2 separate regions of the Homo sapiens genome follow, and region 1 is linked to region 2. Evidence: fine-mapped expression QTL. A gene starts in region 2. The other region holds a variant in brackets. All regions are shown on one strand. Distances are from middle to middle. Region 1 has its middle 6.9 kb from the start of CLEC12A. Region 2 holds the start of CLEC2A (C-type lectin domain family 2 member A).

Region 1 (8,336 bases), 32 kb before region 2:
AGCTAAGCCATCATATGCCTGTGTATATGCCTATGACCTGCATGTACACATCCAGATGGCCGGTTCCTGCGTTAACTGATGACATTCCACCACAAAAGAAGTGAAAATGGCCTGTTCCTGCCTTAACTGATGACATTATCTTCTGAAATTCCTTCTCCTGGCTCATCTTGGCTCAAAAGCTCCCCTATTGAGCACCTTGTTACCCCCACTCCTGCCCGCCAGAGAACAACCCCCCTTTGATGTAATTTTCCTTTACCTACCCAAATCTTATAAAACAGCCCCACCCCATCTCCCTTCGCTGACTCTCTTTGCAGACTCAGCCCACCTGCACCCAGGTGAAATAAACAGCCTTGTTGCTCACACAAAGCCTGTTTTGTGGTCTCTTCACACGGATGCGAGTGAAATTTGGTGCTGTGACTCGGATCAGGGGACCTCCCTTGGGAGATCAATCCCCTGTCCTCCTGCTCTTTATTCCATGAGAAAGATCCACCTATGACCTCTGGTCCTCAGACCAACTAGCCCAAGGAACATCTCACCAATTTTAAATCCAGTAAGTGGCCTCTTTTTACTCTCTTCTCCAACCTCTCTCACTATCCCTCAACCTCTTTCTCCTTTCAATCTTGGCATCACCCTTCAATCTCTCTCTTAATTTCAGTTCCTTTCCTTTTCTGACAGAGATGAAGGAGACGCGTTTTATTCATAGACCCAAAACTCCGGCACCAGTCACGGAATTGGGAAGACAGTCTTCCCTTTGGAATCAGGCAGGGATGCCTGCCTGATTATTCACCCATGTTTCAGAGGTGTCTGACCATGTGGGGACACCTGCCTTGGTCCTTCACCCTTAGCGACAAGTACTGCTTTTCTTGGGAGCAAGAACCCCCAACCCCTTCTCTCCGTGTCTCTACTCCTTCTCTGCTTTTCTGGGGGGCAAGAACCCCACCGCTTTTCTCCATGTCTCTACCCCTTCTCCGCTTTTCTGGGGGGCAAGAACCCCCCAACCCCTTCTCCTTCACCCTTAGCGGCAAGTACCGCTCTTCTTGGGGGCAAGAACCCCCAACCCCTTCTCTCCATGTCTCTACTCTCTCTTCTCTCTGGGCTTGCCTCCTTCACTATGGGCAAGCTTCCGCCCTCCATTCCCCCTTCTTCTCCCTTAGCCTGTGCTCTTAAAAACCTAAAACCTCTTCAATTCACAGCTGACCTAAAACCTAAATGCCTTATTTTCTTCTGCAATGCCACTTGACCCCAATACAAACTCGACAGTAGTTCCACATAGCCAGAAAATGTCACTTTCCATTTTTCCATCCTACAAGATCTAAATAATTCTTGTTGTAAAATAGGCAAACGGTCTGAGGTGCCTGACGTCCAGGCATTCTTTTACACATTGGTCCCTCCCTAGTCTCTGTTCCCAATGCAACTCATCCCAAATCTTCCTTCTTTCCCTCCCGCCTGTCCCCTCAGTCCCAACCCCAAGCATCGCTGAGTCTTTCTAATCTTCCTTTTCTACAAACCCATGTGACCTCTCGCCTCCTCACCAGGCCGAGCTAGGTCCCAATTCTTCCTCAGCCTCCACTTCTCCACCCTGTAATCCTTTTATCACCTCCTCTCCTCACACCTGGCCCAGCTTACAGTTTCATTCCATGACTAGCCCTCCCCAACCTGTTCAGCAATTTCCTCTTAAAAAGGTGGCTGGAGCTAAAGGCATAGTCAAGGTTAATGTTCCTTTTTCTTTATCCCAAATCAGATAGCGTTTAGGCTCTTTTTCATCAAATATAATAACCCAGCCCAGTTCATGGCTCGTTTGGCAGCAACCCTGAGACGCTTTACAGCCCTAGATCCTAAAAGGTCAAAAGGCCGTCTTATTCTCAATATACATTTTATTACCCAATCTGCTCCCGACATTAAATAAAACTCCAAAAATTAAATTCCAGTCCTCAAACCCCACAACAGGACTTAATTAACCTCGCCTTCAAAGTGTACAATAATAAAGTAGAGGCAGCAAAGTAGCAACATATTTCTGAGTTGCAATTCCTTGCCTCCACTGTGAGACAAACCCCAGCCACATCTCCAGCACGCAAGAACTTCCAAACGCCTAAACCACAGTGGCCAGGCATTCCTCCAGGCCTGCCTCCCCCAGGAGCTTGCTAAAAGTGCCAGAAATCTGGCCACCTGGCCAGAGAATGCCCGCAGCCCAAGATTCCTCCTAAGCCATGTCCCATCTGTGCAAGACCCCACTGGAAATCAGACTGTCCATCTCACCGGCAGCCACTCCCATAGCCCCTGGAACTCTGCCCCAAGGCTCTCTGACTGACTCCTTCCCAGATCTTCTCGGCTTAACAACTGAAGACTGTCACTGCCCAATCACCTCAGAAGCCTACAGGACCATCACAGACACTCTAGGTAACTCTCACAGTGGAGGGTAAGCCCGTCCCCTTCTTAATCAATACGGAGGCTACCCACTCCACATTACCTTCTTTTCAAAGGCCTGTTTCCCTTGCCTTCATAACTGTTGTAAGTACTGATGGCCAGGCTTCTAAACCTCTTAAAACTCCCCAACTCTTGTGCCAACTTAGACAATACTCTTTTAAGCACTCCTTTTTAGTTATCCCCACCTGCCTAGTTCCCTTATTAGGCTGAGACACTTTAACTAAATTATCTGCTTCCCTAACTATTCCTAGGCTACAGCCACACCTCATTGCCACCTTTTCCCCCAGGTCAAAGCCTCCTTCACATCCTCCCCTTGTATCTCCCCACCTTAACCCACAAGTATAGGACACCTCTACTGCCTCCTTAGCGACTGATCCTGCACCCCTTACCATCCCATTAAAACCTAATCACCTTACCCCGCTCAATGCCAATATCCTATCCCACAGCACGCTTTAAAAGGATTACAGCCTATTATCACTCTCCTGCTACAGCATGGCCTTTTAAAGCCTATAAACTCCCCTTACAATTCCCCCATTTTACCTGTCCTAAAACCAGACAAGGCTTACAGGTTAGTTCAGGATCTGTGCCTTATCAACCAAATTGTTTTGCCTAACCACCCCATGGTGCCAAATCCATATACTCTCCTATCCTCAATATCTCCCTCCACAACCCATTATTCTGTTCTGGGTCTCAAACATGCTTTCTTTACTATTCCTTTGCACCCGTCATCCCAGCCTCTCTTCACTTTCACTTGGACTGACCCTGACACCCATCAGACTCAGCAAATTACCTAGGCTGTATTGCCGCAAGGCTTCACAGACAGCCCCCATTACTTCAGTCAAGCCCAAATTTCTTCCTCATCTCTTACCTATCTCAGCATAATTCTCATAAAAACACATGTGCTCTCCCTGCTGATCATGTCCGGCTAATTTCCCAAACCCCAATCCCTTCTACAAAACAACAACTCCTTTCCTTCCTAGGCATGGTTAGGGCAGTCAGAATTCTTACACAAGAGCTGGGACCGCACCCTGTAGCCTTTCTGTCCAAACAACTTGACCTTACCATTTTAGCCTAGCCCTCATGTCTGCATGCAGTGGCTGCCGCTGCTTTAATACTTTTAGAGGCCCAAAAAATCACAAACTATGCCCAACTCATTCTCTACGGTTCTCATAATTTCCAAAATCTATTTTCTTTCTCCCACCTGACGCATACACTTTCTGCTCCCTGGCTCCTTCAGCTACACTCCCTTTTTGTTAAGTCTCTGACAATTACCATTGTTCCTGGCCCAGACTTCAATCCAGCCTCCCACAGTATTCTGGATACCACACCTGACCCCTATGACTGTATCTCTCTGATTCACCTGACATTCACCCCTTTTCCTCATATTTCCTTCTTTCGTGTTCCTCACCCTGAACACACTTAGTTTATTCATAGTAGTTCCACCAGGCCTAATCGCCACACACCAGCAAAGGCAGGCTATGCTATAGTACAAGTCACCAGCCCACCTCTTAGAACCTCTCATTTCCTTTCCATCGTGGAAATCTATCCTCAAGGAAATAACTTCTGTTCCATCTACTATTCTACTCCTCCTCATAGATTATTCAGGCCCCCTCCTTTCCCTACACATCAAGCTCGAGGATTTGCCCCCACCCAGGACTGGCAACTCTTAACTCCCTCTCAGAGGGGATAGATAATCTTTGCTGGCAGGGGACCCTCCAATACTTTCACCCTGATGAAGTTCTATTCTTTACTTTTATACTCAATCTTATTCTCATTCCCATTCTTATGCCACCCTCTACCTCTCCCCAGCTATCTCCACCACACTATAAACATTACTCATTCTCTCCTAGCTGTTTCTAATCCCTCCTTAGCGAACAAACTCTAGCTTTGCATTTCCCTTTCTTCCAATGCCTACACAGCTGTCCCCACCTTACATGCAGACTAGGCAACATCTCCTGTCTCCTACACCTCCAAACTTCCTTTAACAGCCCTCACCTTTACCCTCCTGATGAACTCATTTACTTTCTAGACAGGTCCAGCTAGACCTCCCCAGACATTTCACGTCAGCAAGCTGCCGCCCTCCTCCACACTTACTTAAAAAACCTTTCTCCTTGTATCAACTCTACTCCCCCCGTATTTACCTCTCACAACACAAACTACTATTCCTGTGGCTGCTCCTTTATGTATCTCTCAGCAAAGACCCACTGGAATTCCCCTGGGTAACCTTTCACTTTGATGTTCCTTTACTCTTCATCTCCAAAGCCCTCTTGTTGTTTACTTATACCCAGCCCCATAAATAACAGTGAAAGGTAGCTCATAGACACTCAACATTTTCTCATACACCATGAAAATCGAACCTCCCCCTCTACGCAGTTACCCCACCAGTCCCCATTACAACCTCTGATGGCTGC[T/C]GCCCTAGCTGGATCCCCAGGAGTCTGGGTACAAGACACCCCTTTCAGCACTCCTTCTCATCTTTTTACTTTGCTTCTCCAGTTTTGCCTCGCACAAGGTCTCTTCTTCCTCTGTGGATCCTCTACCTCCATGTGTCTACCTGCTAATTGGACAGGTACATGCACACTAGTTTTCCTTACTCCTAAAATTCAATTTGCAAATAGGACCGAAGAGCTCCCTGTTCCCCTCATGACACCGACACGACAAAAAAGAGTTATTCCACTAATTCCCTTGCTTATCAGTTTAAGACTTTCTGCCTCCACTATTGCTCTCGGTACTGGAATAGGAGGCATTTCAACCTCTGTCACGACCTTCCATAGCCTCTCTAGTGTCTTCTCTGCTAGCATCACAGACATATCACAAACTTTATCAGTCCTCCAGGCCCAAGTTGACTCTTTAGCTGCAGTTGTCCTCCAAAACCGCTGAGGCCTTGACTTAGTCACTGCTGAAAAAGGAGGACTCTGTATATTCTTAAATGAAGAGTGTTGTTTCTACCTAAATCAATCTGGCCTGGTGTATGACAACATAAAAAACTCAAGGATAGAGCCCAAAAACTTGCCAACCAAGTAAGTAATTATGCTGAACCCCCTTGGACACTCTCTAATTAGATGTCCTAGGTCCTCCCAATTCTTAGTCCTTTAATACCTGTTTTTCTCCTTCTCTTATTCTGTTTAGTTTTTCAATTCATACAAAACCGTATCCAGGCCATCACGAATAATTCTAAATGACAAATGTTTCTTCTAGCAACTCCACAATATCACCCCTTAGCATGAAATCTTCCTTCAGCTTAATCTCTCCCACTCTAGGTTCCCACATCGCCCCTAATCCCGCTGGAAGCAGCCCTGAGAAATATCGCCCGTTATCTCTCCATACCAAGCCCCCAAAATTTTTGCCGTCCCAACACTTTACCACTATTTCATTTTTATTTTCTTATTAATATAAGGAGACAGGAATGTCAGGCCTCTGAGCCCAAGCTAAACCATCCTATCCCCTGTGACCTGCACATACACATCCAGATGGCCGGTTCCTGCCTTAACAGATGACATTCCACTACAAAAGAAGTGAAAATGGTCTGTTCCTGCCTTAACTGATGACATTATAAAATTCCTTCTCCTGGCTCATCCTGGCTCAAAAGCTCCCCCACTGAGCACCTTGTGGCCCCCACTCCTGTCCGCCAGAGAACAAGCCCCCTTTGACTGTAATTTCCCACTACCTACCCAAATCTTATAAAACAGCTCCACCCCTATCTCCCTTCGCTGACTCTCTTTTCGGACTCAGCCCACCTGCACCCAGGTGAAATAAACAGCCTTGTTGCTCACACAAAGCCTGTTTGGTGGTCTCTTCACACGGATGTGAGTGAAAGTTATAACGGAAAAAAGGGAAAGAAATGAAGACAGGTGAAGAAAAGTGCACAGGGATAAAAATTTGGAGACACACACCTTCAGAGTCACATAATTTAAAAGTTGAGAGACCACAGTGACAGTGATATACTCAGGTACCAAAAAGAAACACACACTTGGGATCCAAAAAAAAAAAAAAAAAAGAAAAAACCGGTTATACATTAAAAGGAAAATTTAAGAAGATAAAATAACAGGACAATTTACAAGATAGAGATAAGACCAAAGGAAACCATGAGGGATAGTGAAATACCCCAGGGCTAGCTACTGCCGGAAGCCATTACTACATTAGGCCTGAGAGAACATTGCTGGTAGCAATTAACTGAAGCAGCAGAAACTATAGCTGATGAAGGCTGCCTCCCTGGAGGTACACTCAGCGAGAACAACTCCATATCCATTTCCTAGTGCTGTAGGGAAGGATTCTCCCACCTTTAAATCTTTTGCCTATTCTTCCTATTAGCACAAACATACCTAGAGCTTCAGGACAATAGTGTCCAGGGATATTATACATGAGAGTCAGTCACCATCCTAGGGCACTGCAAAGGGATTAGAATGGTGAAGAGTAGATTTATTGAAATCATTTTCTGAACCATATGTAGGCCAGTTTTTATCATTTGGCTTGTCAATTGGTGTTTTGATATTTAATTCTTTTTTTTTAGGTTGTCTCATAATTTTTTATTAAATAACAGGCCTTATGTATTAAAAACAGAAATTTTAAATGATCTTCCTACCAAAAAGTTTTGTTTCTTTTTTTCTGGCAGTCACACAGAATATAAGCGGTAAACCTTGATTAATTGGAGCCCCTCAAATTTTGCCTTCTCAGTTGTTTTATACATTTTATCTAAATTTTATAATTATCTTTTTGTAGGTTTCTTTCATCTGATACAAGTTGCAATGCTATGACTAGGATTGGCTTTATTCTGGCTTTGTTCTCCAACAAACTAAAATTGGGAGGTTATATAGTGAGGAAGGAATGTAGCTATGTGCAGGCAGAAATGTAGCTGTGTGGGGAGTGTAAACCAAAAATGAAATTCTAAGGCCCCTCAACCATCTGAATGGACTCCCTCTTCAACCACAGCTCTTTGAAAATTTAACCTGAGAGATGGGTTCAGGCCATGACAGGAAGTGCGTGTCGAACACGCTTCATTATATCTCTCAGGCATTAATACTTAAGTCTCTCTCAAGTCTGCTGTCTGGAGGCTTCATTTGCATGATAAAACCTTGGTCTCTACAACCTCTTACCACAACCCAGACATTTCTTTTCTATTGATTCCAGACCTTTAGATAAACTCAACCAATTGCCAATCAGTAAATGTTTATAGTTGATTGAAGCCTCGTGTCTCCCTAAAATGTACAAAACCAATGTGTACCTGAACCACCTTGGGTGCATGTTCGCAGGGCCTCCTGAGGGCTGTGTCACGGGCATGGTCACTCATATTTGGCTCAGAATAAATCTCTTCAAATATTTTACAGAGTTTGATGCTACGTGGACAGGGGAAAAATAGAAATTAGGCAGAGGTAGGGAAAAAATCATGCTGGGTGAAGGATCTGCAGTCTCATTGCCTGGGTGTGGTGCTCTGATGAGTTTCAGTTCCTTGCCTGAAAGTCGGTTTTCTAAGCAAGAAACTCAGGAAAACAAACAAGTTTCAAGTTTTAAGACCAGACAGGGTCCATTTCTATGTTCCAAAGCAAAACAAACAAAAACAACTGTAAATATTAGTTCTATAAGATAACGGGGCCGGTTTCAGTCTCTCTTTTCTATTTATCACTTCCTCAATCATGGAGAATCTGGTCATTGATCCTTCTGGCTGCTTCATGCTGAGGACGTGTGAGGTGGAATAATGATAAGGAATGGAAATGTGGCACTATAATCAGAAGTAGTCATTGGAGCACTATGATCTGGGTACTTTTATTTCAGTTTTAGAACAACGTTTTAGGCCACATTGAACAAGGATGATAAATAATATAGATAAACCAATTTTAAAATACCAGAGAATTTGGAGTGGATCCCTTGGGGAATCCAAGAGAACAATCCTAAGCCTACCAAAAAGTATTCCTGATTCA
Region 2 (8,336 bases):
TTGGGAGGCTGAGGTGGGCGGATCACGAGGTCAGGAGATGGAGACCATCCTGGGTAAGATGGTGAAACCCCTTACCCTCTACTAAAAAATAGAAAAAATTAGCCGGGCGGGGTGGCGGGCGCCTGTAGTCCCAGCTACTCGGGAGCCTGAGGCAGGAGAATGGTGTGAACCCGGGAGGCGGAGCTTGCAGTGAGCAGAGATCGCGCCACTGCACTCCAGCCTGGGTGACAGAGCGAGACCCCGTCTCAAAAAAAAAAGAAGAGAAAAAATAGATGGTATGTTCAGCATCATCAGAAGCAAATTTTATCAGCATCTCATCTTCTCATTCTCTATGGGGCCGGGATTTAATAGTGTGTAAACCGTGTTAGCAGGTTAAATGCAGGTGTTGTTAAATTATAATTTACATGCTGTACTGTACAAGAACAAAAATAATTCTAAAATTTTCAGATTATTGTGCTACAAAAAATGACCATCGTTAGCAAAAGGAGGATGGGGAATGAGACTTATGCATTTTTAAGGTCATTAAACATCTCCATTAGCCATCTCTGGAGTGGTGACTATCACATTAGAAGGGGACCGCTTTGCATCTCCTAATGATGACATTTCTATCCAGCTGTACTGAAATAGAAATAATGTTAAAAGGAGTCAGAGCGCCCAGTGGAGAAAATTTGACAGGTAAAGAAGAAAAGAGAAAGGAACAAATAATGGGCTGCGGGTTGAATTTTATGAACATGAGCAGAACTTTGAACATTTTTAAGTATAGTTATTCAGGCTAGGTGAGTGGATTGCATCCCCTTCCAACTTATTCTGAGGACAGTACCCAGAGTGAACATATTAAATGTATGTCAGATCACACCGCTATTCTGCTCAAAAGAATTTTCCATCTTCCCATTTCACTTAGAATATTAGCCACAGGCCTCAGAATGGCAAAAACAGAATTACCCTGTTGGTACTTAGCTGAACTCTTCTCTCACTGTTCTCCTCCAGACACAGCTGGCTTCCTCACTCTTTCCGGAATGTGCCAGGCATACATCTGCCCTAGGATCTTCACACAATTCCACCAGGATGATGGTATCCACATGGCACTTTCCCTCCTCAAAGTTCATTTACATTTCACTTTCTCAGTGATGCTTACCCTGACTACCCTATTAAAATTGCAGCTCACACTCCTCAACCTTGACATTACTAATCAATTTTAACCTGGTCTATCTTTTGTTTTCAGTGGAACTTATTACATACTGGAATATGGAATATTGTACCATTTGTTTACTATCTTTAGTCTTTATGTTTAAACTTCCTGGAATGGAAACCCCATGAGTAAAGGAATCTGTGTCTATTTTGTTCACAGACGTATTTCAAGCACCCTGAAAAATGCCAAGTACTAATTAGGCATTCTGTAAATGTTTGTTGAATAAGACAATGAAGAGGCAAATTAAATTAAATACAAAATAGTTTGTTATCCAGGACATTTCTGACTGTATAGCCAAAGCTTTAAAATGAAGATAAGAATAATTTTATAAAATGAATTAGACACATATCAACCCTAGGGAGAATCTTCAAAGTGGTCTGCTCCTTTGAAAAGCCTTAAACAGGAAAGCTTTTATTTAAAGAATGGGCTGGGCATGGTGGCTCACACCTGTAATCCCAGCACTTTGGGAGGCCGAGGCGGGTGGATAACCTGAGGTCAGGAGTTCGAGACCAGCTGGACCAACATGGAGAAGCCTCGTCTCTACTAAAAATACAAAATTAGGCAGGCATGGTGGTGCATGCCCATAATCCCAGCTACTCAGGAGGCTGAGGCAGGAGAATCACTTGAACCCAGGAGGTGGAAGTTGCGTGAGCCGAGATCACACCATTGCATTCCAGCCTGGGCCACAGGAGAGAAACTCCATCTCAAAAAAAAAAAAAAAATGACACTGTGCTTCTGGAAATAACCTAATTATTACCAGAGGAAGGAATTCATGTCTATGCCATACAAGAGCTTTCACCCTTTAGAAGTGTTTTACGGAAGGTCACACACACACACACACACACACACACTGATCAAATTGCGGAATTCTCTGAAGCATACAGAGAATGGCATTTATTCTGGCAAGAACTGTGCAAATTGTTACAAGAAACATAAGGGATGGCAAGTATGAACAATTATATTTCAACAGATGCAGGAAGCAGTTGAAATATGGCTTCTCAACATCTGGGGCTTGCATACTTGTCATCTGGAAACCAGATTGGGTCAGTTACATGTGGAAAGGAATAAGTTATTGCCAGGCCAAATTTCCATATTAAAAGAAGTCTCCATTACCAGATTCTTTTTTTACAGACACCAAATAGACCAGGGAGTTACTAAAAATGGAAGGAGGTCGTGAGAAAGCAAGTCATACTATGAGTAGGACCTCACCTTATGAATTGCCTCTTTAGCAAAATCAACTGCAGAAAGGAAAGACATTGTCTGTTAAATGAAAGGTAATAAATGGAATTCGCAGGTGGACAAAAATACCTCCTGAAATCCCGTAACCCAGCGGGGTACAGATGAGACACGCCCTCTGCAGATACAGTGTGCAACTACCAGTGTGACTCTGAGTGCCCGTTTTCTGTCTCTGCACCGAAGCACCAAAAGCAAAGATTCCAGGCTGAAGCAAATTTTTTTTTTTTTTTTTTGAGACGGAGTCTTGCTCAGTTGCCCAGGCTGGAGTGCAGTGGCACGATCTCGGCTCACTGCAAGCTCCGCCTCCCGGGTTCACACCATTCTCCTGCCTCAGCCTCTCGAGTAGCTGGGACTACAGGTACCCGCCACCAGGCCCGGCTAATTTTTTGTATTTTTAGTAGAGACGGGGTTTCATTGTGTTAGCCAGGATAGTCTCGATCTCCTGACCTCATGATCCACCCGCCTCGGCCTCCCCAAGTGCTGGGATTACAGGTGACAGACACCGCGCCCAGCCAGTTTTACAGCTTTTTATAAAGATAAACATACTTATATGATGCAGCAATTCAATTTCTGGGAATTTATCCAAGAGAAAACTTGCTCACACAAAAATGCCTGTGTACAGCAGTTTCATACATAACAGTCCCACCCTAGAAACAAAAGTCCATCAACTAGTGATCAAAGAGATAATTTCTGGTATAACATGCAATAGGAATACTACTAAGAAATAAAAGGGAATGAACTACTTACCTGCACAACAACTTGAGTGAATCTCAAAAGTATTATAAATGAAATAAGCAAGAGACAAGACACTACATATTATATGATACCATTTATATAAAATTCTATGAAAGGGGCTGGCCGTGGTGGCTCATGCCTGTAATCCCAGTACTTTGGGTGACTGAAGCCAGAAGATCACTTAAGCCCAGGAGTTCAAGACCAGTCTGGGCAATATAATGAGACCTAGTCTCTACAAAAAATAAAATTAGCAGGGCATGATGGTGCGCGACTGTAGTCCCAGCTACTTGGGTGGGTAGGGCAGGAGGATTGCTTGAGCCAAGGAGGTCAAAGTTGCAATGGGCCAAGTTTTCCCCACTGCACTCCAGCCTGGGCAACACAGTGAGACCCTGCCTCAAAAAAAAAAAATTCCATGAAAGGAAAAACTATGTTGATATAAAGCAAAGTAATGCTTGCCAGGGTCCAGGGTCAGAAAAGATAGTGATTACACAAGGAAAAAAAGAAAGATGATGGAAATGTTCCATAGCACGGTTGTTGTGGTGTTTACATGATTGACTTTACGATCCTTTTGTTATGGATGAGTTAATTTTTAAATTCCTTCCTTAAACTAACAAGTCTGCCTACTTTTATCTTTGATCTAAAATTAGTACTGATGTTTTCCATTTGGATTGGTTAAGTCTCTTTTGACTGAAGCTTGCTCAGTGCCTAAATAAGTGATGTACATGAAAAGCTTTCTAGTCCTCTCCTACTGATCTCCATCGGTTAGCGCCTTGCCATGATTAATCCAGAGCTGCGGGATGGCAGAGCTGATGGCTTCATACATCGGATAGGTAAGTTTTATAGAGTGAATGAGAAGGAAGTAAAGGAAAGATAAAACAAAATACAGGACAGCTTAAAAATATGGACTCTTTACTTACTGTGAAAGTCTACTAAAGTAAGTGAGGGATGGGGAAGCACTTCCGGAGAATTGTGGAAGCCTGTTAGAGCATGTAGAGTTTTATGTCTGCAAGAGAGGGTATAAGCTTGTGTGTAAGAAGGTTTTGGGGCAGAATTTTATGGTACGTGTATTATATCTCAATAAGAATATTTTTAAAATGTACTTTCACAGGGAAAAAATTGCTTAACACTTTTATACAGAATAAAAAGCAAATGCTTCACTCTGGAAGGAGGCTTGATGATTGTGACTTCATAAGACTGAAAAGAACTTTTCAAAAATTTTAAGATTCAGCTAAGGCCAACAATGAAGTTTGTTTTCAGTGGATTGAAACATAAACAAACCAATAAATAAAAACAAGGTACACATACAAACACCCTCCATTCACAATAGTTCTGAGGGTTTATGTTAAAGAAAACGAATGAATTGTATGCCAAATGACTGGAATAGGAAGCCTGCCAAAACTTTAAGATAAAGACAGTGAAGAGATAAAAAGTAAAATCTTGAAATGAGTTAAGGACTCCAGCTGAAACCACTATCAGAGTTTACTGATATGAATTCCCAGGGCAATTGGGATAATTCTTTTAATAATAAGTAAGCCTGATACTCTTAAAGGTTGAAGAGACCTCAGTAGCTACCTAGTAAAACTTTTCATCTACCATACGATTTCTAGCTACAGCATTTCTAGCAGCCTATACTAGAATGTTTTCAGTGATAATATCTCTCTGTCTTAGAAGACTTTCCATTTTAATTTAAGGATGTTCTATTTAGAAGTTTCTTTAGGGTAAGGTTAAATTTACTTCGTTGTATATTCTAACTATTGGTCATAGTTACGAACTCTTGATCTATGAAAACTTCATAAGAAAATTTTTAAAAATTAGTCTACATTTTACACAATTGGACATTAGTATTACAAAAAGAAATAAGATTCCATCCCTTTAGCCAAATAAATTAGTCAGGCTTGTCTGGGTAACAGATTTAAGAGTTTAGAGAGTAAAAAGTGGAAGAAAATTTATCTCATTGCATAACGAGAAGACAAAATATGAAGTACTGTGAAGCATGTACTGGAAGATTATGAGAAAGCCGGGCTGCAGGAATCATTAGAACATCTAGTCTGAGAATTTAATTAAAGCATAATAAAAATGCTCCAAAAGAAAAGATATTAATGAAATGAAGAAGCACCAAGAACACAATAAAAACCAAGTGAAAATAATAATTATAGAAATATAGTGTTTGAAATAAAGAACACTTTGAGGAGTTAATTAATAGAATGGACGCTGATTAAGAATGAATAAGACCTAGGAGATGCTATTAAAAACATGACAGAAAAGAAAACAGTTAGAAAATATAAAATAAAAGCTGAGAGATATGAAAAATAGAAGTAGAAATGCCACCTTCTAGATAACAAGAATCTGAAACAGAGAGAGAGAAAAAAAGAATAGCGGATAGGAAATATTTGAAGAAATAATATTCCAACTTCTAAAACTAATAAAAGCCAAATACCTCAAACTGAAACTTCAAAAGTGTACAAACAAAATAGATAAGAAAAAAACATGCATCTGGCACAATAGAGTGAAAGAAAAATATACAAAATTAAAAAATGAGATAATAGGAGACGTTAGTGAAAAAGAGAAGAAATGAGAGGGATAACAAATCAAATGGTGGCTATTAGAAAAGACGAGAGAACTAGATGTCTAAAAGTTTGCAGAAGACGATACAATAAAGAAAATATCAAAAAAGTACAAATAATCACAAAAACCACAAATATTAAAATTTAATAAAACATTATGGAAATAATTCATCAATTATTATGGGGCAAACTCTGTTCCCTTAAAATTTTATATATTGAGGCTCTAACCCCCTCTACCTCAGAATGTGATCTGGTTTGGAGATAGTGTCTTTACCACGTTAAAATTAGGTCGGTAGGTTGGGACCTAATTTAATATTACTGGTGTTCTCATAAAAAAGGAAAATTTAGAGACGGATCCATATACAGGGAGAATGCCATCTTCAAGCCAAGGAGAATGGCCTGGAACAGATTCTTTCCTTACAGGCCTCACAAGGAACCCATCCGACCAACATCTTAATTTCAGACTTCTTGTCTCCAGAACTGTACGACAATACATTCCTGTTAATTTTAGCCGCCCAGTTTGTGACAACTTGTTACGGCAGGCCTAGCAAACTAAAACACTAATGCGCTTATAAATATTAAAAAAAGAAGGTAGAGGTCTAAAAAATATAAAATGCCAAAATGTAATGAGAAGAAATAAATAATTATAGAATTATAGAAATTAAAAATAAATACATTGAAAAGGCAACTAAAATAGAGTAATCTACTGATCTTTCAAGAAATAGCTAATTTTTGTATTGGACATCTTGCTTCAAAAAACAGCAAAATGAGAAATTTACCCCGATTTAATAGACTTTTTGATTTCCAAACAAAGTCAGAACAAGACAAAAAGAAACAGACTCATCTTCTTATGAAATTAGAAGTAGAAATTCCAAGAAAATATTTATTTACTATATACAACAAAGCAGTTAAAAATTCATATACAAGTGGATTTATGTTAGGAATGCTTAGATATCAGAATATCAGTGCAAAAAATATTAAAATTTTTTGAAAGAAAGTCCACACAATTATTCAGTAAGTGCATTTGATAACAACAAGGAAACATGATAACATTCAATGTCTATCTGAGATAAGTCCCTGTTAAGAAACTAGGAATAGAAAAATTCTTTTTTAAATTGCTAATGTTGTATGTTAAATTTATACAGCATTTTTACAGTGCTTAATAATGAAAATTTAAACATTCCATTTAAGATTAAAAACAAGAAAAAAATGTTCACTGTAACTACTACTGTTTAGCAATAGTGTAGTACAATGCTAAAGGTAACCAGTGATATAAGAAAACAAAAGGAATTATAAAGGACAAGGATTGCAATGGAAGAGTTGTATCTGCAATATTTTCAGATAATTTGATTATATAAAAATAAATACCAATAGAATCAACTAGAAAACTATTAAAAATAATACCAGAGTTCAAGAGGGTTACTTAAAAGAGCACATTTAACAAATCAATACTATTTCTGTATACTAGAAGTGTTGTTTTTATTTAGTTTTCTCAGCTTTTTTTTTGTTGTCACTGTGAGAACAGTAGGGATGACTTCCAATCTATTGCAAATATCACATGCCAGAACAGGAATGAAGGACATATATTTTAATTAAAAATAAAAACTGCTAAAGAATTTTCCAAAACACTTATACATTTTTGTACTTCAACCAGTTGTGTATGTGTTTCGGTTCCCCTATATCCTGCTAACACTTGGTGCTGTCAGTCTTTTTCATTTTAACAGTGCAAGTGGCATGTAGTCATATTCCATTGTGGTTTTATTCTGCATTTTGCTTGTGACTAATAATATGGAACATCTTTTATGTGCTTATTGCTCACTTGCGTGTATTCTTCTGTAAGTATTTGTTCAAGACTTTGGTTCTTTTTTTTATCAAGTTGTTTGTACTATATCTCTAAACTACAGACCTTTTAGTATTTTCGATACCAGTCTTTTTTGCATACACATATTGTGACTATTTTCTCCCAGTCTGTAACTTGCATATTTATATTCACAACAGTGTCTTGTATCTTGAAATGGGCAGAGGTTTCTTTCTTTCTTTCTTTCCTTCTTCTTTCTTTCTTTCTTTTTCTTTTTTAAGACAGAGCCTCACTCTGTCACCCAGGCTGGAGTGCAGTGGCATAATTCTGATCACTGCAGCCTCCGCCTCCTGGGTTCAAGTATTCTCCTGCCTCAACCTCCCGAGTAGCTGGGATTACAGGTGCCTGCCATCATGCACAGCTAATTTTTTGTGTTTTTAGTAGAGAAGGGGTCTCACCATGTTGGCCAGGCTGGTCTCAAATTCCTGACCTCAGGTGATCCACCCTCCTTGGCCTCCCAAAGTGCTGGGATTACAGGCATGAGCCACTGTGCCCAGCCCTTAAATTTCAATTAAATTCAATTTATCATTTTCTTTTAATTTTACACTGTACTTTCTCTTCTTTCTCTAAGACAGCTTTACTAATTCTCATGGTCACAAACTATTTTATGTTTTCTAGAAATTGTATGGTTTCAGGTTTTATGTTCAGGTCAATAATACGTCTTAAATAAATTTTGTAAGCTGATGTTGTCGTATGGTAAAGCCTTTTTTTCTCAATTGTTTCAATACCTTTTGTGTAAGACATGGCTTTGCCC

The links. PIP is the estimated chance that this variant, and not a neighbour inherited with it, causes the effect.
Region 1: its variant is fine-mapped to the expression of CLEC2A in whole blood (TOPMed, PIP above 0.99).

What each region holds. Positions count from the first base shown.
Region 1 is chr12:9,960,336-9,968,671 of GRCh38, reverse strand. It overlaps a transcript of CLEC12A not described here. Among named protein-coding and RNA genes, the nearest start is that of CLEC12A, 6.9 kb to the left of the region's middle. The variant T/C (reference allele first, on the strand shown) is at 4,836.
Region 2 is chr12:9,927,929-9,936,264 of GRCh38, reverse strand. CLEC2A (C-type lectin domain family 2 member A) reads left to right here and starts at 3,895. Exons shown (of 5, transcript NM_001130711.2): 1 at 3,895-3,990. The coding sequence starts at 3,936.